Linked DNA regions of Homo sapiens. The protein of the gene in region 3 purifies or fractionates together with the protein of the main gene of each other region. This does not show direct contact. Each region holds a gene or a part of one and is shown on either strand. Other genes may lie near its edges. The genes, in order: CCT6B, STXBP4, WDTC1 and MIPEP.

The links.
Region 1: the proteins of WDTC1 (region 3) and CCT6B purify together in Homo sapiens (co-immunoprecipitation; 3 studies listed by BioGRID and IntAct, with this or other methods). This does not show direct contact.
Region 2: the proteins of WDTC1 (region 3) and STXBP4 purify together in Homo sapiens (co-immunoprecipitation; 3 studies listed by BioGRID and IntAct, with this or other methods). This does not show direct contact.
Region 4: the proteins of WDTC1 (region 3) and MIPEP purify together in Homo sapiens (co-immunoprecipitation; 3 studies listed by BioGRID and IntAct, with this or other methods). This does not show direct contact.

Annotation. Positions count from the first base shown.
Region 1 is NC_000017.11:34,930,111-34,937,685, forward strand, and holds part of CCT6B (T-complex protein 1 subunit zeta-2), read right to left. Parts: intron 2,391-7,575; coding exon 2,257-2,390; intron 942-2,256; coding exon 839-941; intron 1-838. UniProt on the Homo sapiens protein: Component of the chaperonin-containing T-complex (TRiC), a molecular chaperone complex that assists the folding of proteins upon ATP hydrolysis.
Region 2 is NC_000017.11:54,964,323-54,971,874, reverse strand, and holds the start of STXBP4 (syntaxin-binding protein 4), read right to left. Parts: upstream 3,111-7,552; 5' UTR 3,060-3,110; intron 1-3,059. Other genes in the region: COX11 (cytochrome c oxidase assembly protein COX11, mitochondrial), read left to right, coding at 3,229-3,594, 7,023-7,178. UniProt on the Homo sapiens protein: Plays a role in the translocation of transport vesicles from the cytoplasm to the plasma membrane. Inhibits the translocation of SLC2A4 from intracellular vesicles to the plasma membrane by STX4A binding and preventing the interaction between STX4A and VAMP2.
Region 3 is NC_000001.11:27,230,700-27,238,157, forward strand, and holds the start of WDTC1 (WD and tetratricopeptide repeats protein 1), read left to right. Parts: upstream 1-3,932; 5' UTR 3,933-4,252; intron 4,253-4,497; exon of another isoform or gene 4,498-4,612; intron 4,613-7,458. UniProt on the Homo sapiens protein: May function as a substrate receptor for CUL4-DDB1 E3 ubiquitin-protein ligase complex.
Region 4 is NC_000013.11:23,836,940-23,844,514, forward strand, and holds part of MIPEP (mitochondrial intermediate peptidase), read right to left. Parts: intron 4,550-7,575; coding exon 4,396-4,549; intron 2,788-4,395; coding exon 2,710-2,787; intron 818-2,709; coding exon 613-817; intron 1-612. UniProt on the Homo sapiens protein: Cleaves proteins, imported into the mitochondrion, to their mature size.

The DNA.
Region 1 (7,575 bases), on a different chromosome or scaffold from region 3:
AAAATACAAAAATTAGCCGGGCGTGGCAGCAGACACCTATATTCCCAGCTACTCCGGAGGCTGAGGCAGGAGAATTGCTTGAACCTGGGAGGCAGAGGTTGCAGTGAGCCAAGATCGTGCCACTGCACTCCACAGCATGGGTGATAGAACGAGACTGTCTCATAAATTAATTAATTAGGCCATGTCACACCTCTGCTCAAAATTGCTCCCTGCTCCTCTAAAGTAAAAGCCAAAGTCCTGAGACTGGTCCAAATGCCCCTGCATGATCTGACCTTCTGTCACCTCTCTCACCTCCTTCCTCAGAAACATCAGACACTGGCTTTTCCACTGGCTGTTCTCTTTCCCTAGAACACTTAACCCCAGTTGCCTACATGGCTAATTTCCTCACTTCCTTCCACTTTTTTTCAACAGACATCTAGATGATGCCTACCCTGACCAACCCTTTAAGCTGTCATTCTCTCTCCACCCTCCTGTACTAGCATTCATGATCATTATTATAGCACTCTTTTTTCCATATAATTCATTACTTTTTCTAAAATGCTGAAGGAGTTTATTTATTAAAGTTATTATTTACTGCCTACCTTCTCCCACTACAACATAAGCTCCCAGGGGCAGATATTTTTGTCTGTTTTGTTCTGTGTGAAGCCCAAGAGGAAAACAAGCACTCAATAACTATTTCTTAAATGAATGAACATTTTTTAAGAAGCTCAAAAATAAACTAAAGGCATCCAAAATTTAAATATTAAAGTTACCCAAACCTCTACTCCTTTACCATAAGATCTGGGTAACTAAAGAATAACCTCTTTATTAAGCAGCTAATTTTCCTTCACTTTCTTACCTGTATTCAAATCTACGCCCACAAGTTGTTTTGACTCGACATGCTCAGCCTGAACTTTTACTAATGTTTCCTGTGGGTCATAACCAGCATTCTGAGCAAGAACCTTTAGGAATAAAAATAATAATATATATTATATATATATGCATAATACCTTCACATATATCAAATATAAAAATACTCTTTACTCTTGTAAAAACACATCCATAACATGGCAATCATCTCCTTTTGAAGAATTCCACTTTTAATCTAAATCAAATTATTATTTCATCTATCTAGTAGTTTTTATATTTACTTAAACATTTCCCCTATGCACGTCACACTAAATTCTGAGGACATCAGAGTTCCCCCATTTTTACCCTACTACATTAATTTCCCTCCTTGCAAAAGGTTTGTTTTGTTTTGTTTTGTTTTTAGTATGGAAGGAAGTAGAATGATATTCTTGTTTCCTCTAGTGCCGCTAGCCACATGCCCTCCAGTTCTTCATAGGCACTTGCTAAGGAAACCAGAATATTTGCAGCACCTTTGTGCCCCTCATCTTCATGAGGAGAGTCACGACCTGTGGTAACAGGGTTGGAGATACCTGCACTCCAAACCAGGCTCACTTCCAAGTGGCCCCAAATCACCAGCTGATGAGGAAAAAGGTACCACCAATGTAATGTGTACTGGGGTTACCAATTTCTGTCAGCAGCAGGATCATACTGACTTTGCTGCTCTGGGGAAAGAAAAAATAGCAAATCTAATTCACAAAGATTTCACAAATTATGAAAAATTTTAATAAAAATTAGCAAAGAGATTTTGCTAACATTGTTAATAATGTTTTAATTCATGGTAATAGCATCTTTGAAGTAGTTTTACTATATTTCTAAGGTGGTTTGAAACCAATTAAGGCAAAGACAAAGGAATGGTCGCTTTCTGTCCTTAGGTTGCCACATGGAAAAATTCTGTTTTCTCTTTTTCTAGGAATTATAATGATGATGACAAATGTAAGGTTGTATCTAGGAGTGCTAAAGAGCCTCAAGCCCTCCCTCTCCACAATTTAAATTGATTACATTTGGATACCACTAACAAAACAAAGATGTACCACAAAATCTAACTAAATTTTAAATTCTAAACTTTTTCATTATGATTAGTTAATCATGAGTCATTTCTGAAGGAAATTTTTGGAGCTGCTTTAATTTTTGGAACTCAGAGAAAGAAGCAAGGGGGTAAGTTGGCTATTTCATGAGATCGTGCAAGGATCCTGGGCTGTTATCGCAAAAGTTTCCCTGCTTTAGTTGTAAAATATCTAAGAGAAAACTGTGTAAGGAAATGCACATAAATACCTGTCTACTCCATTAACTATCAGATAATATGGGCAATTTGTAATTAAACACCTTTATGTCTAAGCAGTTGTTATTTGGCCGAAAGGGTAGTTGTACCTTGGGAATAATGAGTAAGGCATCAGCAAAAGCTTGGACTCCAAGACGAGCTCTTCCTTTTATACTGTTCTTATATGTAACAAGAGCTTCAGCCATTGCCACTTCAATTGCACCAGCTCCAGGAACCATACAACCTATTGGAGAGAAAAAATATGATTGGCAAGACATGCCATAAAGACCAAAAGAGAGAGAGAGACAGAAAAGCAATTCACTATTTAAGTATGTTCTATTATCTACAGAAACCAAATAAATTGCACAGCTTAGTAATTACTCAGTTATCTTATGAAACATCCTGAAGTTATATGTCATTAAATAAATAGGCATAGTACAGATAACTGGCTGCAAACAGCTTATTTTGCTCCTTACCCTCTGGTAAACAAGAATAATTTATTTTTACCTTCATCTTACTCTTTTATAACTACTTTTTTTTTCTGAGATGGAGTTTTACTCCATCACCCAGGCTGTACTGTAGTGGCATGATCTTGACTCACTCCAACCTCTGCCTTCCAGGTTCAAGTGATCCTCCTACCTCAGCCTTCTAAGTAGCTGGAATTACAGGCGTGCACCACCACACCCAGCTAATTTTTGTATTTTTAATAGAGATGGGGTTTCACCACGTTGGCCAGGCTGGTCTTGAACTCCTGACTTCAAGTGATCCACCCACCTCCGTCTCCCAAAATGCTGGGATTACAGGTGTGAGCCACCACACCCGGCCTTATGACTACTTTTAAGAGGTATTTATAATTTATATTGACAGGTAACTGATTACAATATCTGACATGAAAATTCTTTAGACCAAGATCATTTGTCTAGTTTTTGATAGGGAATTCTTGGAACTCAATGAAGTATTTGTTTTTTGTACTGCAGCAGAACTCAAACTGCTATCTAAGAAAAAATTTAAGTGGTATTATTCTAAAGCAAGAGTTTTGGTTAAACACATCAAATTTCACATCAGGATATCACTTTTATATCTGCTACTTGTATGGTTTCATAAAGTTTATGACTCTTATTTAAATCAGAAAACTTGCTTTAAAACAAAACAATACGAAAACAATCTCCCCTTTTATCTCACATCATTTTAAAATTACTACCCCCTTTCACTGCTTCACTTCACAACATAACCGCTCAAAGAGTTGTTTACCCACCAGATGATTACATCATTACCTCCCATTCACATTTTTTAAAAGTTCCTTGTTAAATACAGAATATACTCAAAAGAATATTTATATGTATGATATAAAGAATAAATGCACAAATAAACAAATGTATCCATGTACCTACCACCCAGCTTAAGAAAGAGATTACTAGAACCTTTGAAAACTTCCCTGATCCCATTCTCTGTGAAAACACAACATATCAAAATTTTAGCATCCCTAAAGCAGTACTTAAAGAGAAATTTATATCACGAAACACCTATATTAGGAACGAAGAAAGTTCTCAAACTAATGACCCCAGCTTCCACCTTAAGAAACTAGAAAAGGACAGGGTCTGGTGGCTCGCTCCTATAATCCCAGCACTTTGGGAGGCCAAGGCAGGTAGATCACTTGAGCCCGGAAATTCAAGACCAGCCTGGGCAACACAGTGAGACCCCATCTCTACAAAAAACACAACAATTAGCCAGGTTTGGTGGCACACACCTGTAATCCCAGCTACTTAGGAGGCTAAGGTGGGAGGACTGCCTGAGCCTGGGAAGTCAAGGCTGCAGTGAGCCGTGACCATGCCACTGCACTCCAGCCTAGGTGACAGATCGAGACTCTGTTTCAAAAAGAAAAAAAAAAAAAAAAAACTAAAAAAGGAAGCACAAATGAAACCTAATATAAGCAAAAGAAAGGAAATAATTAGGATGAAAGTGGAAATTAGTCAAATGACAAATGTCAGAAATGAGAAAATTTATATCACTACAGATTCTACAGATATTAAAAAGAATAACAAATGAATATTATGATCGACTTTATGACAATAAAGTTGAAACTGTTGATCAGAAGTTAGTAAACTTTCTGCAAAAGGCCAGTTAATATTTTTCAGGCCATACCATTTCTTTTCCAACTATTCAACTCTGCCACTGTAACACAAAAATAGCCACAGACAATATATAGACAAATGAGTATGGCCACATTCCAACAAAACTTTATTTACCAAAACAGGCAGCAAATCAGATTTAGCTCATAGATAGTAGTTGATGATCCTAACTTAGATGAAGTGGACAAATTCTTGAAAGACTACAAACCACTAAAGCTCACTCAAAAAAAACAAAACCTTTATAGCCCTACGTCTATTAAAAAAATTGAATGTGTCATTAAAAGCTTTCCCACAAAGAAAACTCCAGGCTCAGATGGCTTTATTGACAGTCTACCAACATTTAAGAAAGAAATAATACAAATAATACCAATTCTCCACAACAACTTTACACTTTCAGAAATTTGAACAAGAAGAAAAACTTTCCAATTCACTCTATGAGTACAGCATTGTTCTAACACCAAAAAAGATAAAAGCATTACAAGAAAAAATATACACAGACCAATACCCCTTATGAATACATATGTAAAAATTCTTAACAAAATTTTAGCCAATTAAATCAAATAATACATAAAAAGGAGAATACACATAGTACCATTATTCACAATAGCCAAAAGGTAAATGCAACACGTTTCCAATAATAGACAAATAAAATGTGGTATATACATACAATAGAATATTATTCAATGGTAAAAAGGAAGGAAATTCTGGCACATGCTACAACATGAATGAGCCTTGATGACACTATGCAAAGTGAAATAAGCCAGACAAAGGACAAAAACTGTATGATTCCAATTATATGAGATACATAGAGTAAACTCATAGAGACAGAAAGTAGAATGGTGGTTACCCAGGGCTGGGGAGGTGGGTAGGGAATGGAGAGATATTGTTTAATGGGTTCAGAGTTTCAGTTTTGCAAGGAAAAAAAGTTCTGGAGATGGGTGGTGATAATGGTTAGACAACATTGTGAATGCACTTACTAACACTGAACTGTACACTTAAAAATTGTTAAACTGTAAATTTTATGTTATGTATATTTATCACAATTTAAAAAATAATTTTAAAAAAATGTAATCCATTAATTTTTTAAAAAGTAAAATGCATTATAACTAAGTATGGTTTATCCCAAGAATGTAAGGTTTGACATTTGAATCAATCAATGTAATTTACTGTACGAGAAAACTAAACGAGGGCTGGGTGCAGTGGCTCAGGCTTGTAATCCCAGACCTTTGGGAGGCCAAGGCAAGCAGATCACCTGAGGTCAGGAGTTCGAGACCAGCCAGGCCAACATGGTGAAACTCCATCTCTACTGAAACATACCAAAATTACCCTGGCATGGTGGTGCATGCCTGTAATCCCACCTACTCAGGAGGCTGATGTAGGAGATTCGCTTGAACCTGGGAAGCAGAGGTTGCAGTGAGCCAGGATTGCGCCATGGCACTCCAGCCTGGGCAACGAAGTGAGACTTCATCTCAAAAGAAAAAAAAAAAAATCATATGATCATCTCAATAGATGCACAAGAAGCATTTGGCATTTATTCTCGTGTGTGTGTGTGTGTGTGTGTGTTTTGACAAAAAACAACAACAACAAGAAGTTTTACTCTTGTCGCCCAGGCTAAAGTCCAGTGGCACGATCTCGGCTCACTACAACCTCCACCTCCCAGGTTCAAGCAATTCTCCTGCCTCAGCCTCACGAGAAGCTGAGATTGCAGGTGCCTGCCACCATGCCCAGCTAATTTTTTTATTTTTAGTAGAGACAGTTTCACCATGTTGGCCAAGCTGGTCTTGAACTCCTGACCTCAGGTGACCCATGCACGTCAGCCTCCCAAAATGCTGGAATTACAGGTGTGAGCCACCACGACCAGCCTGGCATTTATTCTTGATTAAAAACTGTCAGCAAACTAGGTGCAGAAGGGAGAACTTCCTCAACCTGATAAAAACCTATAGCTAACATCATACATAATGGAGAAAGATTGAATGCTTTCCCCCTAAGATCAGCGATGAGGAAAGGATGTCCATTCTCATTATTTCTAGTCAACATTATACTGGAGGTTCTGGCCCATGAAATAAGGGAGAAAATTTTAAAATATCCATATTGGAGAGCAAAAAGTATAACTGTATAGCAGACAATGTAATCACTTATATAGATAATTCAATGAAGCCTATAAGAAAGCTAATTGTGATTTAGCAAGGTTGCAGAATTCAAGATCAATGTACAAAAATAAAATATATTTCTATATATTAGCAACTAACAATCAGAAATGGAAATTTTAAAAATAGCATATACAATAGCAACAAAATACATAAAATATATAGAGATAAATATGGAAAAAAGTATGTGAGGCTCATATACTAAGATCTATGAAATATTGCTGAGATAAATTCAAGAAGACTCAAATAGATAAGATGATATTCATGAGTTAGAAGGCTCATTATTAAAATATCAACTATCTCCAAATTGGTCTACAGATTTAATAAAATTCCAATCAAGCAGGGTGTAATGGCTCACACCTGTAATCCACGCACTTTGGGAGGCCAAGGCGGGAGGATCGCTTGAGCCCAGGAGTTTGAGACCAGCCTGGGTAACAACATAATGAGACGTTGTCTCTACAGAAAATAAAAAAAAATTAACCAGGCATGGTAGTGCATGCTTGTGGTTCCAGCTACTTGGGAAGCTAAGGTGGGAGAGTCACTTGAGCTCAGCAGGTCAAGTCTGCAGTGAGCCATGATCACACCACTGCACTCCAGCCTGAGTGACAGAGTAAGATCCTTTCTAAAAAAAAAAGTTCTGATCAAAATCCCAGCAGCAGTCTTTTTGGTAGAAATTGACAAGCTGATTCTAAAATTCATATGGAAGTCATATGGAAATGCCAAAGACTTAGAATGACCAAAATAACTTAAAAAAAAAATGAGAGTTAACAATACTGATTTCAAGATTTATTATAAAGCTACAGTCGTCAGGACAGTATGATATTAACATTAAAATAGACAAATGCATCAGTAGGACAGAAAAAAGAGCACAGAAATAGAACCACACAAATATGAAAAACTGATTTTTTATACACGAGAAAAGGCAATTCGGTGGTGAAAGTAAAGTCTTTTCAGCAAATAAGACTAAAACAATCTGATACCTTTATATGAAAAAAATGAACTTGTATCCATACTTGCACCATATACAAAATTTAACTTAAAATGAATCACAGACCTAAATGTAAAACATAAGACTGTAACACTTTTAGAGGAAAATCTTTATGACCCTAGGTTAGGTAAAGATTTTTCAGATACCACACCAAAAGCATAATCC
Region 2 (7,552 bases), on a different chromosome or scaffold from region 3:
AAGACCACCTAAGGCCAGGAGTTTGAAACCAGCCTGAGCAACCCAGCAAGATCTTGTCTCTCAAAAATAAAAATAAAAATAAAAATAAAAAAGGAAAGAAAAAGACAAGAAAAGACTGGCAACTATTCCAGATTGAAGAAGACTGAAGAGGCATGACAACTAAAATCAACGAGTAATCCTGGATTAAATCCTAGATCTAAAATGGAAATGATTGGGACAAATGGGGTAATTTATGTAGAGTCCATGAATAACATGATGTAAAGAATTTAATATATATCCCCCAAAATCCATATGTTGAAGCCCTAACCCCTCAATGTAGCTGTATTTGGATTAGGAAGTAATTATGGTTGAATGAGGTCATAAGGGTGGGAACCTGATCTCATGGGATTGGTGTCCTTATAAGAGACATAAGAGCTCATTTACTCCAATCTATGTAAGGCCACAGCAAGATGGTAGATGTCACAAGCCAGGGAGACCCCTCACCAGGAAGTGAATCAGTTGATACATTGATCTTTGACTTTCCAGCCTTCAGCACTTTGAGAAACAAGTATTTCTGTTGTTTAAGCAACCAGTCTGTGGTATTTTGCTATTGGTAGTCCAAGCTGACTACATATGGTAATACTGGATAAATATTAACTTACTGATTTTGATGCCTGCTCTGTGGTTTGGAAGGAGAAAGTGTTCTTGTAATAGGAAATAAACAAGTAAGTATGCAGATAAAGACTGAAGAATCTTTATCATTCTCTAATCTTGGTGAAGGGTATACAAGAAATTTGAGTACTATTATGTTGCAGAAATATTTTAAATTGTTTAATATGTTTGTTAATTGGACATTGAACTAAATTATGTTCTACACATTTCATTCAAAATATAAGTAAAAAACCAAAATATTTAGTTGTCATTCAGAAGTATTTCATAAACATGAACTGTCATTTCACATTATCATACTAAGATCAGATACAATGCATATTTTCTTTTATTAAAGTAGAAAGCTACAAAGACCAACACCACTTCATTGCTATCAATATCACTGTACATAAGAGTTTCATTTTGCAATTATTATACAAAAAATGAAATACTGGAGTCCAAGACAAAGACTGTATACTGACATATATTTATACTGCTACCTGGAGCTACAAAGAAGGGGTGCCTGGAGAAACAGAATGGTGAGTGGAAATGTACTGTTGGTATCAAGGATTTCAGTCTATGCTGTAAGAAAATTAAACTTTGAGAAATCTCATCCTAGAAGAGCTGAGAATCTGGTACAAGAACCAAGGTGCATGCAGATGAAAAAGATTTTCAAACACTGTCATCACACAATATGAATAAATTTGTAGAATCATGGAGACCTGAAATTTTTGAGACAGTATGCCAGAGTATAGAAAGAAGTCAGAAGGTATTTATATTTTATTGGTTCTGCAATTTTCTGGCCCTGTGACCACAAGTTAATCAATTACTCACTCAAGGTGACCATCATCACTCATGTGGACTACTGCAATTGCTTCCTAATTGTTCTACTTCCATTCCTCCCCCTACCTTTAATCCATTCTCCACAAAGTAATCAATATCTTTTCAAAAATGTGAGTCAGATCACATCACTTGTATGTGTCAAACATTCCAATAGCTTCCTATTACTTTTAGAATAAAATCCAAACCCTTGGACATGGCTTAAAAGGCTGGTATTACCAGGCCTTTGTTACCTGTTCTGACCCCATTTCCTACCACTTTCCACTCTGCTATGTTGGGAACACAGTGGCCTTCTTTCTGTTCTTCAATCATTCTATCTCTTTCCTTCCCCTGGGCCTTTGCTTGGCCTGGAATTGTTATTGAGTAGGTAGCTCCTTATCATCGTTCAGATCTAAACTCAAATGTCACCTCTTCAAAACGTCCTTACTTTACTACCGCTTCTCATGACTGTCAATCATACTATGTTATTACATTGTCTTCACTGCACTGATTGTTATCTGAAATTCCCTTATTTCGGTAACTGTTACTTGATTATTTTCTGAGTCCCTCAGCAGAAAGGACACTCCATCACTGAAGTGATCTCCCGACTTGTTCTGTGCTATAGTGCCAGCAGGTCGATTGGTGTCAGGCCCACAGTTGAGAGGGCAATAAATAAATAAAATGTCGAATGACTAGTTAAAATTTCTCAGGCCTCCAAGTTCCTCATCCACATAGTGGGGATAATTATACCTGCTCTGGCCATTAGAAATGGCCACGTAGCAAGTAGAAATACAGCCTAACTTTTAACTACATTCTTACTATGCCTCAGTCATCATGAAAGACGTTATATGAATATTATTCATTTACTGTTCTGATTTCCATTTTACAAGTAAGGACACCAGGTCTTAGAGGACAAGTAACTGACCTAAGGGCACAGGGCCATGGTGAGGACCCGGGTAAAAATCCAGAACCCCCTAACCTCAGAACCTGAGCTCTTAACTGCTATTTTATAGTTTCTAGAAAGATGCTTCCTTCTAACACAGTAAAATCCGCTATGCTGTCTGCCCCCCTCGAGTTCGTCCTGTGGGACAACTGAAGAAAGCTATTACATCCTCCCACGGGGTTCGTTTCTTTCAGTCTCTCCTTAAATGGCCCTCCTATCCTGGTCACTCTCTCCAGAACAAACTTCAGCGTGACAGCCTCCCTCCTGCTCCAGCTGTGGTGCTTTCCACTGGGCAAGTTGTAAGGGGCATCAGAGCAGGGGAAGCCGACTGCCCACGGGCTGAGAAAATGCAGGTGTCGTGGGTGCCCATGAGGGCTGCGGTTAACACAGCAAGGCTTCCTGAGAGAGGTGATACTTGAACTAAGTCCAGGGCAGTGAGCACAGGAGCCAGCGGCCAAGGGACCCCAGGAGAAAAGACCGCGGGAGAGCGTCGCCGGGGCTGCCGGGTCGAGACAAAGGCTGGTGGAGTTTAAATAAAGATCACAGGCGCAACCCCAAGTGATGGCAAGCTTGCACGCGGACGGGCGAAACGCATTTTCCTAAATGTTAAGAGACGTTCTGGCGAGAAGCGAAGTGGGAGTAACAGTCACAAAGCAAAACGCAAACTTACCCGTAATCTGGCAACCCGGCCTCCGTAGCCCGACTGCAAGCGCTGCCACCTGAGGAGCCTGGTAGCCAAGGCAGCGGCAGGCTCAACCCAGATCTCGCGAGACGGAGCACGCCTCGCGAGATTTGACCTCTCGTCCCTGAGAGGCGGGTGGGTGTTAGTTCAGAGGGTTATGGGAGGGCTCTGGCGTCCTGGATGGAGGTGCGTTCCTTTCTGTGGCTGGCGCTGGATCCACCCTGGGTCTCCAACCAGGGCTGCAGAGAGGGTAGAGCCGTTTCTTAGGCCAGAGTGGAGTGGGACAGGAGGTGCCGAGAGAGGACTGAGGTGGCTTGGGACATGGAAGCGCTGCAGCCTTCGAGCCCGGCATCCAGCATTGCAGCCGCCGCGGCGGCCTAAGAGCTCGAACCCTTTCACACGCGCGCAGGAGGAGGAGCGGCGGCGGCAGAACAAGACGACCCTCACTTACGTGGCCGCTGTCGCCGTGGGCATGCTGGGGGCGTCCTACGCTGCCGTACCCCTTTATCGGCTCTATTGCCAGGTAGGGGCCGGCGCCGCCCGCAGGGTGGCGCAGACGCGAGAGGTGGGGGTGCAAGACAAATCCCGGGACAAGCCCTCGCTCTGCGGGTCGTAGGTGGAAGAGGTTTCCGATATTATCTACCTAAGAGGAGAGAGGTTCAAAACAGTCACTTAACACCCAAAGTCACCAAAGAAATTGGTGACAAAACTGCAAGTAGCATCCAGTTCTTAGTGATTGTGCTTATACCATGCTGCAGAGTGAAACCCCTGATCTATGAACTGCACCTCGCCAAAAAAAAAAAAAAAGGTCCGCAGCCTCTAACCGGGTATCTAGCAGTCTGCCTTACCCTCCTGCGCACACACGCTTTTAAAATGTATTATTCATACATTCACTCTGCAAACCACATGTGGTTTATGTGCCAAGGGTAACTCTGGAAATTGGACTACTCGTGTTTCTTGGGCTTAAACTGGGATTAGCAGTTCCTCCGTACAAAGAGGCATGAATTAGGCCTTTGAGGCTCTCTCGCCCCACCCCTGTTAATATATAACTGTAATGTACTTAACCTGGAAACTGTTAAGTACATTGCAACGGTTCTGGGAGTGTGGCGCCCAGGACCGGCAGCATCAGCATCACCCGGGAACCTGTTAAAAGTGCAAATTCTAGGGCCCGACTCCAGGACTGAGTCAGAAACACGGGGTGGGGGGGTGGGGCGGGGAGAAGAAGGGGAGTGGGACCAGCACTCTATATTTTAGTTAAGTCCTGTAGTTGATTTTGAGGGCAAGTTTTGAGAACCACAGGCAAAGACAAGTTTCACGTATTTTAGAGATTTCTCCTTTGTTCTTAGCTAATAATTTGCAGCTTTGGCTGGCCATTAGGATCACCTATGGAGCTTAACGTTAAATACACGTTCCAGGGATCCCCTACCCCAGAGATTCTGGTTAGGAAGTCTAGGGTAGGGACAGGAATTTCGGTTTAAAAATCATGCCACAAGTGATTCAGTAAGTGTTTAAGATAGTGGCTCCCAAAATTCATTGTACAGCAACATTGGGAATCACCTGGACAGCTTCTAAAAATCCACACACATTACCCATTTTATCACAAGGCCACAGTGGGAACCAGGCATCAGTAATTGTCAAGTATGTTTTAGGTGATTCCAGCGTGCAGGAAAGTTTGGGAATTGTTTTTTTAACACCATGACTGGTATTCTTAGCTGGAGTTCACTCTTTCCGTGTGTGTGTGTGTGTGTGTGTGTGTGTGTGCGCGCGCGCGCACGTTTATTTATTTAAATTTGTAGAGACGAGGTCTCCCTATGTTGCTCAGGCTGGTCTCAACTCCTGGGCTCAAGTGACCCTCCTGCCTTGGCCTCCCAAAGTGCTGGGATTACAGGCGTGAGCCACCATGCCCGTGGAAATCAATTTACCTTTCTTTTAGATGATGAAGCAGAAGACAAAAGGACTTTTCTTTTCTGGCATAGTCTCCTAATGCCAGCATTTATGTGGGAATGTGCAATAGTTGATTTTGAGGATGAGTATAGAATGTGAATTACTTTTCATCAGAGACCAAGCCCAAGCATGAATTCTAAAACTACCAGTTGGTTAAATCATAAGCAGAACTGAATCCAAATCAGCAAATCTAGATCCTTCTCAGACCGCCAGGAGATTTTTGCCCCTCAGGGAACATTTAGCGATGTGTGAAGACATTTTTGGTTGTCACAACATGGAGGTGGGGGTATAGGGTGCTACTGGCATCTAATAGGTAGAGGCTAGGAATGCTACTAAATAACCAACAAAGCACTGCCTCACCCCCAAACAACAAAAAATTATTCAGCCCAAAATGTCCATAGTTCTAAGATTGAGAAACCCTGCCCCAAACTGAAATAACTGATAATATTGCGTGTGAAATGTGCCCACATGCAATCATAGATCAGGAAGCCAAATGTAATTTGTAATCTATCAGGTTCTTAGAGCTAGTAGCACAACTAGAATAGAGACCAGGACATCTTTTTAGTGCTGTTTTCTAGTCTTTTTGTCTATTTTACTTTAGGCATTGAACTTAGAAATTTGAACCCATATTCAAAGACTATATTGGAATCTTTATTGAGGGAGGACACTTAAAAGTATTTTTATTTAAGTGACTTAAATTTTTTAGTAAAAGAAGTTACATCTTAAACACAGCACTCAGGCAGAAGGATAAACAAGGATAAAGGCTTGCCCTCTGATGCATCTTTTAGGGATATAATGTAATTCAGTAATGTTGCATGGCAGTCAAATGAAGTTAGTTGACTTGCGTAACAAACAGAGAATGCTAAAACACTGTATCTTGCTGGGAGTCTTCCCCTAGCCTCAAATTTGTTTTTTGTTTTTTCTTCCTAGCATAGTAACAGGCAAATTATCCAGAAATCAGAATTCTGGCAACCTCAAGTATCAGAAGAAAGATGACCTTGGAAGTAAGGGCGTTTTTTTTTTTCTTTTGAGATGGAGTCTTGCTCTGTTGCCCAGGCTGGAGTGCAGTGGTGTGATCTCGGCTCACTGCAACCTCCGCCTCCCGGGTTCAAGCAATTCTTCTGCCTCAGCCTCCCGAGTAGACCTGGGACTACAGGCGCGTGTCACCACACCCGGCTAATTTTTTTCTATTTTTAATAGAGACGGGGGTTCACTGTGTTAGCCAGGATGGTCTCCATCTCCTGACCTCATGATCCGCCCCCCGTGGCTTCCCAAAGTGCTGGGTAAGGGCTTTTTTTAAAAGTGATGTCAAGGAAATAACTGTCATGAATAAAAGAAATGTCAGACATAAATACTCTTGATGCCCTATGATTATTTCTGTGGCCATAGGGATTAGGTGCTCTGATTAGTGATTTATATAAAAGCTCTACTATACAGAGAAGTACAGAAAAGATTCAAAACCATTAACCAACGTGGGAAAATACCTGTGATACCTTAGAAAAGCAGAATGTTAATAAAAGTGAAGCTACAATCTTATTTGGATTATAAAAGCTGTGATATGGAAAAGGACCAGACAGGAATATGGAAAAATTGAGTTAAGTATTTTCAGTGGAATTACAAGGTCATGGGTAAATTTTATTTCTATTAATGAAATACTAGCAATAAAGGGAAATGTGTTTTTTATAAATGGCTAAGCTGGAAATTGTGAGTTCGACTATCAGTGATAATAGTTGACTTATCTAGTGAACCTGCTTTTCCCAGACTCATTTTTGACCATGCCAGGTAACCAAGGGATTGCTGAAAAATAGGAATGACTTTAACAAATACAGGCTCATGACATCCCAAAAGTAGTCAGATTCTTGACACAGTTACAGCAATGGTCAGTTACCATATGTAAACTTGGCTCCAAATGGATTATAAATACTACATTGTTTTTAAACTTTTATCAAATAAATAGATCATCAACACCTAAAAGTATTGTTTAACATATTTGGTATCTTTTTCTAGACTACTGGACTTGGAGGATCAGCAGTTGCAGGTCATGCCTCAGACAAGATTGAAAACATGGTGCCTGTTAAAGATCGAATCATTAAAATTAGCTTTAATGCAGATGTGCATGCAAGTCTCCAGTGGAACTTTAGACCTCAGCAAACAGAAATATATGTAAGTGACTAACCAGTCATTAAAAGATTACTTTATTAATGTAAATTCCTTTCTTTCATCACTTAAACTGTCAGAGGACTAATTTTAACACTATGATTCTAATAAAACATGGCATTTTCCATTGTTCCAAATTGACTTTTACTATCATGTAACTTAAAAGTTAAAGTATAAATTCTGTTACATTAGGTGTAAAGCACTATTAAAAAGTAGTCTATGGGAATAAAAAAATTTATAGTAATGGAACCCGTCAGTATTTTGAAATTAAGTTTAGATGAGTGAAACAGTTGGGAGTAGCAGTAACCGTCAGGCTATATAGCTTCCTGACTTTTCCTCAGGCATAGAAGACATGGGAAAAATGTGGAAAAGCATTGGTT
Region 3 (7,458 bases):
ATGAGCCACACCCGGCCCAGTCACCATGCCTGCCCTAATTTTTTTTTTTTTTTTTTGACGAAGTCTTGCTCTGTTGCCCAGGTTGGAGTGCAGTGGCGTGATCTTGGCTCACCACAACCTCTGCCTCCAGGGTTCAAGCTATTCTCCTGCCTCACCCTCCCAAATAGCTGGGATTACAGGCACGCACCACCATGCCCAGCTGACTTTTGTATTTTTAGTAGAGACGGGGTTTCACTATGTTGGCCAGTCTGGTCTCGAACTCCTGATCTCGTGATCTGCCTGCTTCGGCCTCCCAGAGTGCTGGGATTACAGGCGTGAGCCACCGCGCCTGGCCAATGTTTATATTTTTTGTAGAGACAGGATTTTGCCGTATTGCCCACGCTGGTCTGGAACCAAAACGTTGGGATTACAGGCGTGAGCCTCCATGCCTGGCCGAGTCTCTGTTTCTTCTATGTAAAATGGGAGTAAGAATCATACCTAACTCACAACGTGGTTGGGAGAAGCAAATGAGTTAGTGTGTGTTAATGTATATGGGTGTGTGTGCGTGCGTGTACACATATGTATGTATAGATTTATGTATAGGTCTCTGCCTATATGGAGAGAGAGGAAGTGAGAAAGAGAGAAACTCAAGCAAGTGTAAGAGTACGAGTGGTATCTATTAGAAAATAATAAATAGTAACTGCAGTTGTTAATAGTCTTCTTCCTGGTGGGGCGAGGTGGCTCATGCCTCTAATCCCAGCACTTTGAGAGGCCAAGGCAGGTGGATCACCTGCGATCAGGAGTTTGAGACCAGCCTGACCAATTATGGTGAAACCCTATCTCTACTAAAAATACAAAAATTAGCCGGGCGTCGTGGCATGTGCCTGTAGTCCCAGCTACTCGGGAGGCTGAGACAGGAGAATCGCTTGAACCCAGGAGGCAGAGGTTGCAGTGAGCCGAGATTGCACCACTATACTCCAGCCTGGGCGACAGAGCAAGACTCCGTCTCAAAAGAAATAGTCTTCTTCCTGTCATCAGTCTCTACCAACGAAAGTTCATTCTGACAACAAATATTTACTGAGTTTCTGCTATGTGCCATAGACTGTGCTAGGAGTCACAGAAACATCACCCACTCTTCTCTATCAGTATATCTAAGATCCTCTGTGACCTTGCCAGCATTAAACAAGACTTTAAAATGGGGGTTCTCTGGCCGGGCGCGGTGGCTCATGTCTGTAGTGACAGCACTTTGGGAGGCAGAGGCGGGTGGATCACGAGGTCAGGAGATCGAGACTATCCTGGCTAGTACGGTGAAACCCCGTCTGTACTAAATGAAATGACAAACTGGTGGCGGGCGCCTGTAGTCCCAGCTACTCGGGAGGCTTAGGCAGGAGAATGGTGTGAACCCGGGAGGCAGAGCTTGCAGTGAGCAGAGATTGCCCCACTGCACTCCAGCCTGGGCGACAGAGCAAGACTCTGTCTCAAAAAAAGAAGAAAAAAGTGGGGGGGGGGGTGGTCTCTGCCAAAAACACAGGATGCTAAAATGATTTAAAAATGAGGGTTCTGGATTTGAATAGTGTAGGCTTTAATCCCAACTGTACCACTTCCTAGCTATGTGATTGTGGGAGTCTGTCTTTCTTTCTTTTCTTTTTTCTTTTTTTGAGATGGAGTCTCTCTCTGTTGCTCAGGCTGGAGTGCAGTGGCACGACCTCGGCTCACTGCAACCTTCGCCTCTAGGATTCAAGTGATTCTCCTGCCTCAGCCTCCTGAGTAGCTGGGATTACAGGCACGCGCCACCACGCCCGGCTAATTTTTGTATTTTTAGTAGAGACGGGGTTTCACCATGCTGGCCAGGCTGGTCTTGAACTCCCGACCTCAGGCGATCCACCCGCCCTTGGCCTCCCAAAGTGCTGGTATTACAGGCGTGAGCCACCGCGCCCGGCCGGGAGTGTTTCTTTTTCTTTTACTTTTTTTTTTTTTTTTTTTTTTGAGACGGAGTCTCGCTCTGTCGCCCAGGCTGGAGTGCAGTGACGCGATCTCGGCTCACTGCAAGCTGCGCCTCCCGGGTTCACGCCATTCTCCTGCCTCAGCCTCCCGAGTAGCTGGTTCTACAGGCGCCCACCATCACGCCCGGCTAATTTTTTTGTATTTTTAGTAGAGATGGGGTTTCACCGTGTTAGCCAGGTGGTCTCTATCTCCTGATCTCGTGATCCGCCCGCCTCTGCCTCCCAAAGTGCTGGGATTACAGGCGTGAGCCACCGCGCCCAGCCCGGGAGTATTTCTTAATTCACTAGTAGCACTTATCTCCCATGGTAAGTATTCAATAAATGTTAGATATTATTCAGTTTAATTAACCCAATGACCCTAACCAAGGTTGCAGCCTGAACCTGGGGAGCTGCAGATAGATGATCTCAAAGCTTTCTTCTAGTCCCAAAGTCTATGATTTTTTATATTCAGTAGAACAGCTGTGGTGGAGAGTTCAGGGGGAATGACCCACAATATTTTTAGGAGAAAGGCATAAAAGGCTTTGTGAGCGGTTTCACAAGGATAGGTTCTTACTCCTCTAAATGGGGAGAAATCTCCCTTGCGGAGAAATCACCAGCAATTAGAATACTACCTTTGTCTCTGGGAGTATTCAGGTATTCACAGACAAATTCGTACTCATGATGTGAGCAGAATTGGAAAAAAAAAAAAAAAAAAAAAAAAAAAACAAGCGACACATGGAGTGATAAACACTATAAATGCCAAATACATATATTCAGTCCTTACTGAGAGCGGGTGCTGTCTGGTTTTCACAGGAAAGACAGGCAGTGTTAAAAGGCTCAGACTCTGGTGTCAGGCAGATCTGGGTCTAATTCCCAATTTGCCAACTTATCAGGACCCCGGGGGCAAGTTGCTTTTAGCCTTTCTGCTTCAGCTTTCCTTTTCTGCAAAACACAGACAGCAATAGTACCTAGCTAAGAGACTGTACCCAATCCAGTGCGAATAAAAGTGAATTATTGTTAGTATCTGACAAATGGCACCCTATGGGTGACAAGTTTCCTTTGTCAGAAGGTGACACGTCTTCCCTTTCTGACTTGAGGTTTCACGGGTGGGGCCTGGTCTCTGCCTTAAGAAGATAGGCTTAGTGCCACCCTTGTCACCTTGGGAACTTCCTTAATAAAGAGGAGGGTCTCTCCTCCATCAGACCCGGGACTCCACAAGGCTGGAACTGCGTCTCTTCCTCAGAGGTGGGAGCAGCAGTGACTCCGCTAGGGTCAGATGGACCTAGTCGCTCCCATCACCCCGAGGGCACCCAGAGTGTGTGTGGCTGACTCCTCTCCAGGCTACTCAGCGTAGGCCCGATTCTCTTTCATTCTCTTCCTTAAGGCCCAGGAGACGTCAGTGAGGACTGTGCCACTTCAGCAGCCCCCCAGAGCAGGAAGGAGTGGGCTGAGGAGCCCCCCGGGGCCCTAGCCTGAGAGGTCCCAGAATTCGGGGGCTGAGAGGAAGTCTTAGGAGCTCTTAAGGGGCTGTGAGGGGACCTGGGGTTCAGTGGGCGAGCGTGTGGGCGGGTGTCCCAGAAGCGGTGTGAGGAGCGTTTTACCCGGTGGTGGGGTGGGAGGTGCGTCCGGGTAACTAATGGCAACCGGGCGGGGTGAGCCCGCTCTGCAGGAACTCCTCGACGGCGAAAAACTACGACTCCCAGGGTGCCCCAGGGCTTAGCCCAGCTTTCCCGCCCGCCCACTGGCTGCCGGTCCCGCAAGCGGCGAAGCCCATTGGCCACGGCGGTGCGGGGCTCCCCCACTAGCAGGTTAGTGGGCGCCGCCGGCAGCAGACGTTGACCGGGCGCGGGGGGGTAAGTGGGGGGGCCCGGCTAGCCATTCTGGAAGCGGCCGGGCGCAGTCTTCGTAGCGTACCCGCCGGCTGCGAGGCGCAGGGCGGAGGCGGAGACTGCGTGGCGCAGGCGCGTTGCTGGGCTTCTCCTGGGTCCCCAGACAGCTGGAGGAGATAAACAGAGGAGGAGGAGGGAGGGGAGTGCGTGTGTGAGAGCGCGCGAGGGAGTGTGAGTGTGTGTGAGCGCGGGTGTGAGGCGGTGCGCAGGGGCGGGCGGAGGCGCTGTCCGGCCCCGGCCAGGCGCCGGGCGGGGAGCATGGGAAGGGGCTAGAACTGCTCGAGCCCCCCAGCCCCCTCCCCGGGATCCGCGCCCCCCTTCCCGGGAGAGGGGCCGCCCCCCCCGGACGGACATGGGCTCCTGAAGTTGCGCCGCTGCCGGTCGGGGGAAGAGACCTGACAGGTACGGGTCACCGCCGCCCCCTGCCCTCCGCGGGCGCCGAGGCGGGGACCGGCTCCCGCAGCCCCGGTGAACGGGCCGCCCGCTCTGGGCCGGCTCCAGCCCTGCCGGCCTGGGGGCCTGAGCCTACCCGCCTCGGGGCCCCGGGTGTCCCGAGAGGGGCCAGGCCTCGCCGGGGCGGAGGGCAGAGTGGTCCGGGGGCGGGGTGGGGGCGGAGGGTTTGGTCGGGACGCGGGGGGAGGCTGTGGGAGTCCGGGGAGGCTCTGCGGAGGGAGAGGTGGAAGTCATTCCATCATGGGACTTTTTTGCGGAGTTTTTGTTTGACATCTGATCTGGCGCCGGAGTCAGGAAGAAGGGGCAGGTGTAAGTGCTGGGAGGGCAACGCCGACCTGACCTGCCCTCTTAGCTTCTCGCTCTCTCTCTTTCTGTTTTTCTCTCTCTCTTTCTGTGTGTGTGTGTGTGTGTGTGTGTGTGTGTGTGTGTGTGTGTCCACAGCAGATGCCTTCAGTGGCCCATCCTGGCACCAAACAACTCTGCCAAGGTGTTTCCACCAGGCGACTGTAGCACCCCGTATACAAAGGGCCTCTGCTTGGGAACGGGCTATTCAGTACCCACTTCAAAGGGTAAATAGGAAGTGAGGAGATAGAAGAGAGACTGCGAACCAGCAGGATCCACTTCTTGGACTGAAAGCCGCAGTGGGACGCCCCTTTGCCAGATTGGTTGACTTTGCTTGGTGGCTTGGGCTCTCTCTCCTCTGCGGGTGTACTCCCAGGGTTTCTAGAGGAGAGGTACAGGGGCCTGTAACTAATGTCTTAATAGCCGAATTTGACTGTTTTCCCCAGAGTTCTTTTCTTCTGTGACTTTCTTTAACCTCCTGAAGTACTGGTAGAGCAACGTTATAGTTTTTCTCTCAAGTTGGTGATTTTAGGAGCCTGGTAGGGTGGCTGAAGCTTCCCCATTCATTCCAAGGATGGGGTAGATGATCTGGGTAAAGTGGCAGTGAAGTCTTCCCTTTCTAACAAAGCCTGAAACCGTTTTGAGAAGAAACTATTTTGAGGGCAGCTTCTGACTCAAAGACGTTACGAAATCCCCACCTAGGACACCGGTATGCCCAGTGGTCCCTACTAAGCTTTTCTGTGTCTTTTAGAGTCGTTGAGTGGCCAGCTTCTGCTCACTGTACTGAAGGAACTACTTAATGCTATTTCTGTCTTGAGTTCTGGCTTATTCTTCCTTGTGATTCTTATATCTTTAGCGGGATTGAATTGAATTTTTGCTGTTGAGTGTAATAGCCAGATCCTCTGTAACAGACCAGGGAGTAACTAGTTGGGCTCCTTTGGGCCAAGTCTGAGACTTACTGAGGTTTCTTCATTGTAGGTTGTTGTATTTCGTTGGCAGGTGGGAAATGACCTTTTCCGTCATAGTTTGTGATCATGCTGCTTTAAGGCTGGAGTCCTGCTCTCCTTTCCTTTTTTGACCTATATGGGAGCACTTCTGTTCGAGTCTTATCTCAATTTGAAGGAACAGTGCTTTTGGATCAACTCTGCCGAATAATTGAGCAGTAGCCCATATTTCTGCCTGGGACACCTTCATTGAGGGTCACGAGGGAAAGAGAGAACACGTGTAAATATTATGATGATGATGTTAACAACTATTTACCAGTTTCATACAATTGACAGTTTTTTTTAGCCGGGAGGAGTTCAGTATTGACTCATTGGGCATCTTATGTAGGGTGTTTTTGCACACCTAGACTTTAGGATCTGGAAAGACAACTGAAAATCTTGAAGCCCACTGCCAAACATTTGTGGATCTTGGGCCAACTGCTAAGGAAGATCTAGACTATGACTTGGTCTTTAATTATTTTTATTTTTTTCTCCTTTATGTATGTATGTATTTATTTATTTATTTTTTGAGATGGAGTCTTGCTCTGTTGCCCAGGCTGAAGTGCAGTGGCGCGATCTCAGCTCACTGCAACCTCAGCCTCCTGGGTTCAAGCAATTCTCTGCTTCAGCCTCCCAAGTAGCTGGGATTGCAGGTGCCTGCCACCATGCCCAGCTAATTTTTGTATTTTTAGTAGAGATGGGGTTTCACCATCTTGGCCAGGCTGGTCTTGAACTCCTGACCTCGTGATCCACCGACCTCGGCCTCCCAGAGTGCTGGGATTACAGGTGTGAGCCACCGCACCTGGCCTCTCCTTTTATTTTTATTTTTTTGAGATGGGGTCTCACTCTGTTGCCTGGGCTGGTCTCAAACTCCTGAGCTCAAGGGATTCTCGTACCTCTGCCTTCCTAGTAGCTGGGACTACAGACACGGCCTCCGTGACCACTCTCTTCTCTCTTTTTAAAAATTAAGGAATGTTGCTGACATGTGCAGTTCTGAGTCTCAGAGAGGAAGTCAAACAGAACATGTAATCTGGTGATACTTGTGTTTTCTTTGGGTCACTGGTTTAGTTATCTATTCTGTTTCCTTTCTTCTTTCCACCTCACCTTTCCAGATGCTCCACTGTATCTTTAGGCTGCCATTGCAGATTGCTGGGCCCACAAAACCCTTAGGTTGTACTTTCTTAGCTGTCATCTCTTGAAAAGCCAAAGTTCTGGCAGTTGCTATTAGAAACCAGTTCCTGGCTGAGCGCGGTGGCTCACGCCTGTAATCCCAGCACTTTGGGAGGCTGAGGTGGGCAGATCACGAGGTCAGGAGATTGAGACCATCCTGGCTAACACGGTGAAACCCCATCTCTACTAAAAATACAAAAAAAATTAGCCGGGCATGGTGGCACGCGCCTGTAGTCCCAGCTACTCAGGAGGGATTTTCCTACTAAGGCAGGAAAATCGCTTGAACCCAGGAGGTGGAGGTTGCGGTGAGCTGTGATCGTGCCATTGCACTCCAGCCTGGGCAACAAAAGTGAAACTCCATCTCAAAAAAAAAAAAAAGAAAAGAAAAGAAAAAAAAGAAAGAAGCCAGTTCCTTGGTGTAGTTAATTTACTTTGAGAGGTATTTGCCAGTTGGGATATGTCCTAAAAAGTGACTGACATTTTATTCAGGGCCTGGTATATCTTGAGCTCAGTGCTAGCTAGTATTTTTACTTTATCCAGTGTAACCTTCATGACTGTCCTGTGAGGTGAGAATCATTTTCCCTATTATACCTATGAAGAAACAGATTCAGAGAAATTAAGTTATTTGCTTAAGGTCACACAGCAAGTAAGAGGAAGGAC
Region 4 (7,575 bases), on a different chromosome or scaffold from region 3:
AGTTAACAAATGCTGGATGCCAACAATTCACTAGTGGTCTAATGCTGACCATATGTGATAGGGAGCTTAAGACTTAAGGATAAGACAATGAAGAAGGAAGTCTGTAATATCACAAAATATAGCCACATAGCAGCATAAAAACTACAAAGCAGAACTATGATTTTATACAGGGGAAAGTATATGAAAAATTAAAAGGACTTCATCATACTTTTTAAGCATGCTTTATTTTCTTCTCTGATTTTGAATATAAAGAGAGACCATTCATTCACTTACTTATTAACTCTGTGGGAGGTATTAAGGAGATACGTTTTTATTCACACACACATAGCCACAAACTTAAATTCAATATAAAACACTGTAAAATGTAAAAAGGGACAAACTTGAAAGACAACTGAGATTATTCCCTGGTGAAAGCTGTTAGCAAGCATGGAAAAAAGCATGGAAGATCAGGCTGCACAACCATGGGGAGGGCAGGATGAGGCAATCTGAGATAAAGACCACAGGACACGGTAAAATGATCACATTTTCCAAATAAAAAGCCCCTTTCCCAATTCAAAGAAAATGTATGTTTGTAAAGGACTGTAGTAAATAAAAGCCCTCCTCATGGCTCACCAGTGACGTGTTGGTAACGAGTACGTCCTAGCATTGAATGCATGGCATGTCCCATTTCATGGAAAAGATTTTCCATCATGCTAGGAGTTAGCAAAGTTGGAGAACTCCTTGAGGAACGGGGAAGATTCAGCATAAGAACTACAACTGGGAGTTGATAGTCTCCATCTTCCTTTAGTCTGCCTCCACGGATAGTGAAATGGCAATCCTTTAAGAATCAGAAAACATAAAAGGAAAAGAAAGTATTTGGTAATGTGAAGAGTAAAACAGTCTTAATGAATATAAAATTTCACCAAAAATGTGTGAGTGCAAACTTTAACTTAATTATATTCTTATTCTATCTATTTACATATATACACCTTTTCTTGACATTTTTTATTCTGCTAAAATTTTAATTTTTTAAAACATCAAGAACACATTCAGTTTCTATGGATTAACTCATTACTTTGGTCCCAAAACATGCATTGAAATGATGCTGTGCCAGAAGCTGGAAACAAAGTCAGCAAAGAACTTACGAAGGGACACTAACATTTATTCTGAGTCCCTACTATGTGTCAGATAATGAACTAGTAGGTACTTTCCATGTCTCTTGGCTATTTTTTTTTCTTTTTTTAAGATAGGGTCTTGCTCTGTTGCCCAGGCTGGAGTGCAGTGTTGTGATCGCAGTTCACTGCAGCCTGGACCTCCTGGGCTCAAGCCATCCTCCTGCTTTGGCCTACTGATTGGCTGGGACTACAGGTGTGCTCCACCACACCCAGCTAAATTTTTAGATTTTTTTTTGTACAGATGGAGTCTTACTATGTTGCCAGGGCTGGTCTTGAACTCCTGGACTGAAGTGATCTGCCAGCCTCAGCCTCCTAAAGTTCTGGGATTACAGGCATGAGCCACCGCGCCCAGCCTCTCTTGACTTTTATCACTTGAACGAGATGGGATCTAAACTAGTGTAAAGCAAGGGATCCGGAGCCAGAATAACTTACTCTGAAACAGGCACTACACTGAGACTCACATACACTGTATCACTTATTCTCCACAACAACCCTATGTAGCAGGTATCTCACTTTTCAGATGATAAAACTAAAACTAGTCTTAGGATTATTAAATAACATGTCCAAGGACACCTAGCTAGAACTGCCACACCTTGGATCTGAACCCAGGCTGACTATTAGGAGCCAGGGCTCCTAATCACTAAAGTTGAGTCTCCACCACCCACCCATTTAAGCAAAGAGGAAGAACACTGGCCTCAGAGTCTGGTGACCTGCACCCTGTTCCTACCTTTCACACCTACTAGACAAATCATCTCGGAAAATAATTTGCTTCTGCAAGCCTCATCTCTAAAATGCTTCCTTGTCAAATCCCACAGTGGCTGTCCAGAATTCATAAGCTCACATCTGTTAAAATCTGTGCTTTGGAAATTGTGAATCACTATTCAAACATAAGGTACATTATTTCTGTTATAACTTATAACCTAAACTCTTGACATTTCCCATCAAGCTACATGAAACTGCTAAAGCTGACTGGCTGTCAAAGTCGGCCAATGCTAAAGAAAAGGAGATGAGCTGCCTCAAGTCTTCCACATAAGGAGCTACTTGGTGGTTGGTAAGGTTTCCACATGGAGTATCTTCCGCAGTTTTAGAATAGGTTCATTGTCGAGTATGGAAAAGAGTTAAAAGTTGGGGATCTGCTCAGGATGTATGCCTTCAAGTCCTAGCACTTCTGGCCAAGTAGCTTAACCTCTATGGCTTCAGTTTCCTCATAATGTGAGTAACTAGTCAAAAGGGTGAGGCGAACATTAAAAGGCTGATGTGTATAACGGGCTCAGTGCACTGTTTGGCACAAATAAGGATTCATAAAATGTCAGTTGTCATTGTTACTATAATTAATACCATGACCCAGATAAAAGTGACAAATATAGACTGATGTAATTATTTCCATAAACTTTTTAATTTTAAAATTCTATCTTAATTTCAAATGTATATATTTGGTAACCATCATTAGTAACTTTTAAATGTCATGGAATTTAAAAAATGATACAAAGTTCACATCAATACAAATGAAATGCCGATCGGTTCTAGAGAGACCAGTTTATAAAGAAAGGATCACCTGATGTGGTTTGTCTGCTCGCTGAAAAAAATCACAGTAAATGTACCCCAACAATCCTTCAGATTCATGAACAACAGCCTAGAAAAAAAAATTTAAATTTGGTGGTAAATGAGGCCATCTGATTCTCTAAAATCCCTAACACAAGAATCTGTATATTAAACATCCATAGCCACACATATAGACATTTTAATTACATTCTACACCCCACATTATCTCGAGATAGATTCTCTTTTCCCCGCATCCTCTTCTGCTCCATCTCTTGAATGATTTTGGTTTTGGAATTCTGTGTCCAGGACAGGAAATCCTCCTCATGAGGGCCTTTTGTCCTGACTGCCTATCCTCTACAATACCTTTACTAACCACCCACAAGAGCTGGGAAGAAGTGCTGGCTGGACAATTTTAGGAGCAAATTATTTTTCCTTCAAATCCTGGAATGTCGTGATATACGCCCAAGCAAATTATAACCCTTGAATTTGAAAACACCACAATGCAGCTCCCAGCTTGAGTTAAAAATCAGCAATATTACTATCTATCCCCTCTCCAAGAGACATAGCTTATAGGAGAGACTCAATCACTACTCTCCATCTTGCCTTCTTTGTTCTTTCAGAATTTAATGATTCCATCAAAGAGAACCCCGATTTTGTGCTTTAAAACTACCTGCAAGTATATATTTATTGTTCATCAAACATCTGTTAAGCACCTACTTGGTGCCAGGAACTCTTCAAGACACTGAGGATACAGAAGTGAATGCAACTGACAACAGTGCTGGACCCCGGTGGAGTGCACATTCTGCAGTTCTGGGGAAACCCTTCATCACCCGCATTTTGTCCTCTCAGTCTCCTCTTATAAATTTTTCTTTTTATTATATCTCAGCATTTTATCAATCTCTATCTTTTTTGGAAGTTTGTAATACAGATAGTGAAGTAAATCAATGCAGTGATGAACGTCCTCCCACCCTGACTCTCCTTTCAATCCCACCACCACACCTACTCTCCACTCACAAGACGTGGCCGAGAGACAATGAGACTGTTTACATTTCTTAAAATATAGTGAAGAAAGCAGTGTGGTAAGCATGCTAGCAAAAATCAAACAACAAAACAATACAAAGCCTTAGTGACACACACAGGTCAACAAAGCCTCAAATCCTATGAGGAAAAATTTAAAATATTCATGCCTCATATAAAGTGGGCCTTCACAGGAGAAAGATGATTGCTAGGTTTGAAGTTATTATCAAAGAAGTTAAATAAATCAGAACACGGACGTAAATTAATATCTGATGCAAATATAAGCCCCTACAACATGGGATGGGGGTTGGAGAGAAAAAAGGTCACTTATCCAATGGATTTGGGAATTAACCAAAACGGACACACAGCTATGAAGGTATATACAAAGTAAAGGACAATTTTCCTATAAATAGAATTTGTGGATATATGAAGGTGCATATATATTCAACCTTCTATCAAGTTCCAAAAAACTTTTTTAGAAAACTCTGCTGTTTTATGTTTGGATCCTTTATACAGTGTCTTAAATCAGAAGTGCAATTTGGATTTTTTTTGTGAAGCAGAAATAAGGCAGGGGACACACTCAGTCAGGGCAAAGTTGATGTAAACCTGAAACTGCTGTTGACTCAACTGCCCAACCGAAAGGTAAATGCCTGCAACTGCAGGCTGAGCAGGAGGAGCTCACCAGTTTTCGGACATCTTCGCTCCACACCTCTCCTTTTGCAGGCTGCTCTGCATATAATGAAATCCCCAACAGTCTGTTAAGCAAAATATTCAGGCCTTCCATGCATGCTCCAAGAGAGAAAAACGGGCAATATAGGCTGGGCTCAATATTATACCTAAGAGAAGGAAGAGAGGTTCAACAGCATCTTTGTTTATTTCAATTTCTGAAGGTAAATTCAATTAACTTTTCATTTAATACTTAAGATCACTGGAGCTAAAGAAGGATTCAAAACATAAAAGTGTATTTATATCATTTGAGGGGTTTTCAGACAGTTTTCTTCAGAATGACAGTCTGATTATTACTAGTGTTAGTTATAAGTCAGTAATTAAGGTAGATATATCATTCCCTAACCTTTGTCCCTTCCCTGTTATTTACTCTTTCACTAACCCAATTAAGCAGTCTCAACTGCTCACTGTATACATTCCTTATACATACTTACATGCAAAATATGATCAGTTTCAGTTATAATGGTAACTCTTACCTTATGAATTATATTCTAGAAACTTGTGACCTATATACATAAATATTAAATGAATAAAAATCCTGAGGCACATTAAGTGAATTTAAAGTTCTCATCCAGTAAAATATTCATTTATGAAAAAAATGCCTGCAATATAAATAATCAGATCTTATCTGTTTTATAGTTAGATATCTTAAATTAAAGACAACGTAACTAGTAAGGTGAATTATTCTTCACCCAAAAATAACTTTTTCTGTTCTATATATTCCAATATAAACCAAAGCAAATCCAAAATACGTGATTTGAATGTTTACATTTGAATCATTAAGTCAAGCCAAAATATATAGCCATAGCCAAAAATAATGGCTCTAGAATATTGTAGGTTCTCATTATATGTCTACTTTTTAGGATTACCAAAATACACATTTTTTTTTCAATTGGCTTTATTTGTGATTCTAGAACTGCACAACACTTCGTTCCATAAAATGAGTCCCCACAACAAATTTATATATAAAAATATAAAAACATAGTTACTAATAAATGAATGAGTTTAGTAAGTGAACATAAATTGCACAACAAATGAGACTTTGGCTATGGACATCCACAAATTTACACCTTAATTTCTGACTGATTTTTCTTTAAACAGAATCCTAGTGTTGAAAGAGACGTTCATGATCCAGTGCCCTCGCTCCCTGGTTCGTTCACTCAAGCATGCTGTCAGCAAACCTGCGGGGTGCTGGAAGAGAAGAATGAAGAGCCTTTGTGTCTAAGCAGCTGGCACTGAAAGAGGCAGAGAAGTGAACCAACTACACTGTGTCCTGGGCCTGGTGCAGTGGGCACACGGCTGGCGCTCAACAGACAGTGCTGAAGCATGAACGAATGAGCACTGCAAAATGGGAGGGCAAAGGAGAGCATGATGACTTTACTTGTGGAGTGCAGAGTAGCACCAGGGAAAGCTTCTCGGATAGGAATCAAGAAAGAATCGGCCGGGTGCTGTGGCTCACGCCTATAATCCCAGCACTTTGGGAGGCTGAGGTGGGTGGATCATGAGGTCAGGAGTTCAAGACCAGTTTGGCCAACATGGTGAAACCCCGTCTCTACTAAAAGTACAAAAATTAGCCGGGTGTGGTGGCGGGTGCCTGTAATCCCAGCTACTCGGGAGGCTGAGGCAGAGAATTGCTTGAACCCAGGAGGCGGAGGTTGAGTGAGCCACGATTGTGCCACTGCACTCCAGCCTGGGCGACAGAGCAAGACTCTCCATCTCAAAAAAAAAAAAAAAAAAAAAAGGAATCAGACTTTGCAAGGCAGGGCTGGGATGAGGAATGGAAAATGGGAATCATAATAGGAATTCTAGGCAGAAGCGACAGTATAACTAAAGTATGATGGCATAAAATAGCCTGGTAACTTCTAGAAAGGATGTGGTTAAAGATGAAGCAGTTACCAATGCAGGGATAAATGTAGAAAGAATGGGAGCGGAGTCTGGAAAAGGCAGGCAGGGGCCAGAAAACAGAGGGCCTGGTCCACTAAGCTGAGGAACTGGGACCATGCACCATAGGCCATGGCCTCTAAGCTTCCTCACCAATGCACACTAAAATAACTTTTGAGTATTCAACCTTCTATTAGTACACTCATAAAGTATATGCATGTGGTATTGTTTTATCACATTGCAAAAAGAAAAGCAGACATTTTTATAAGTTGAGATAAAGAAAAATAAATATACATAGAATTTCTAATATTTTATGACTACACTCTCAATGAATTGCTTACAGATGCCATTTGGGAGACAGCTTCTGTAGGCCATAGGGGAGCATCTGATGTTTTCTGGAATGCTGCACAGTGGACAGCATGGAGGGTGGAATGCAGGAGGCAGGGAGGGCTGACAGGAGGACAGACTTCCAGGCTTCAGAGGGTGAACTCTGACAGAGGGCAGTGGGGTCAGGGATGAATGTGTTTTTCCTTTGAGATGCAAACGTCTCAGGACTGTGTGAGTGATTGGATTTGGAGGGTGATGAGAAAGACAGAACAATCTAGAATAACACTCAGGTTTCTGGCTTGGACAAATAAGTGGATGGTAGAGTCACTGAATCAGCCGGCACAATGAACACAAAAAAGGAAGAGGGGAATCTGGGTGTGTTTGTGGGAGAAGAGAGGAGGGTGAGGTGCAATGATGGGAGGAGGATGGAGGGCTCACAGAAAATAAACTCCATTTTGGAGGAACCGACTGTGAAGTGCCCATGAGATACCAGACACTCAGGACCCAAAGCTAAGGAGAACAAGGAGACTTCACTGTACAGATATTAGAGCCATAGAGGGAGACAGGGCCATTAGGGAAGGGCGATGCGGGCAGAGAAGGTAAAGGGCAGACCCCTGAACTACCAGAGGGAGGGGTGGGAAGGAAGACACAGAACAGTTCAGAGGTACTGAAGAACTGAGAGAAAGGAGTGCATGGAAAGAGGGGAGAAAATAAACTATAAAAGGAAGTGGTCCAGGCTTGAGGTTTCCACTCCTGCACATGAGGAGGTTGAAAGTCACCACTCCATCCTAACAAGCAGGAAGCTGAACAAGCTGAAAATCAAGAATCTTCTTAGATTCAGCAGAGAATCAAGGCCACAGAGCAAACTGCTGCCCCCAAAACTGGAAAGAAAGGCAGGCAGCCATAGAGAATCACAGCTTACCAGAGC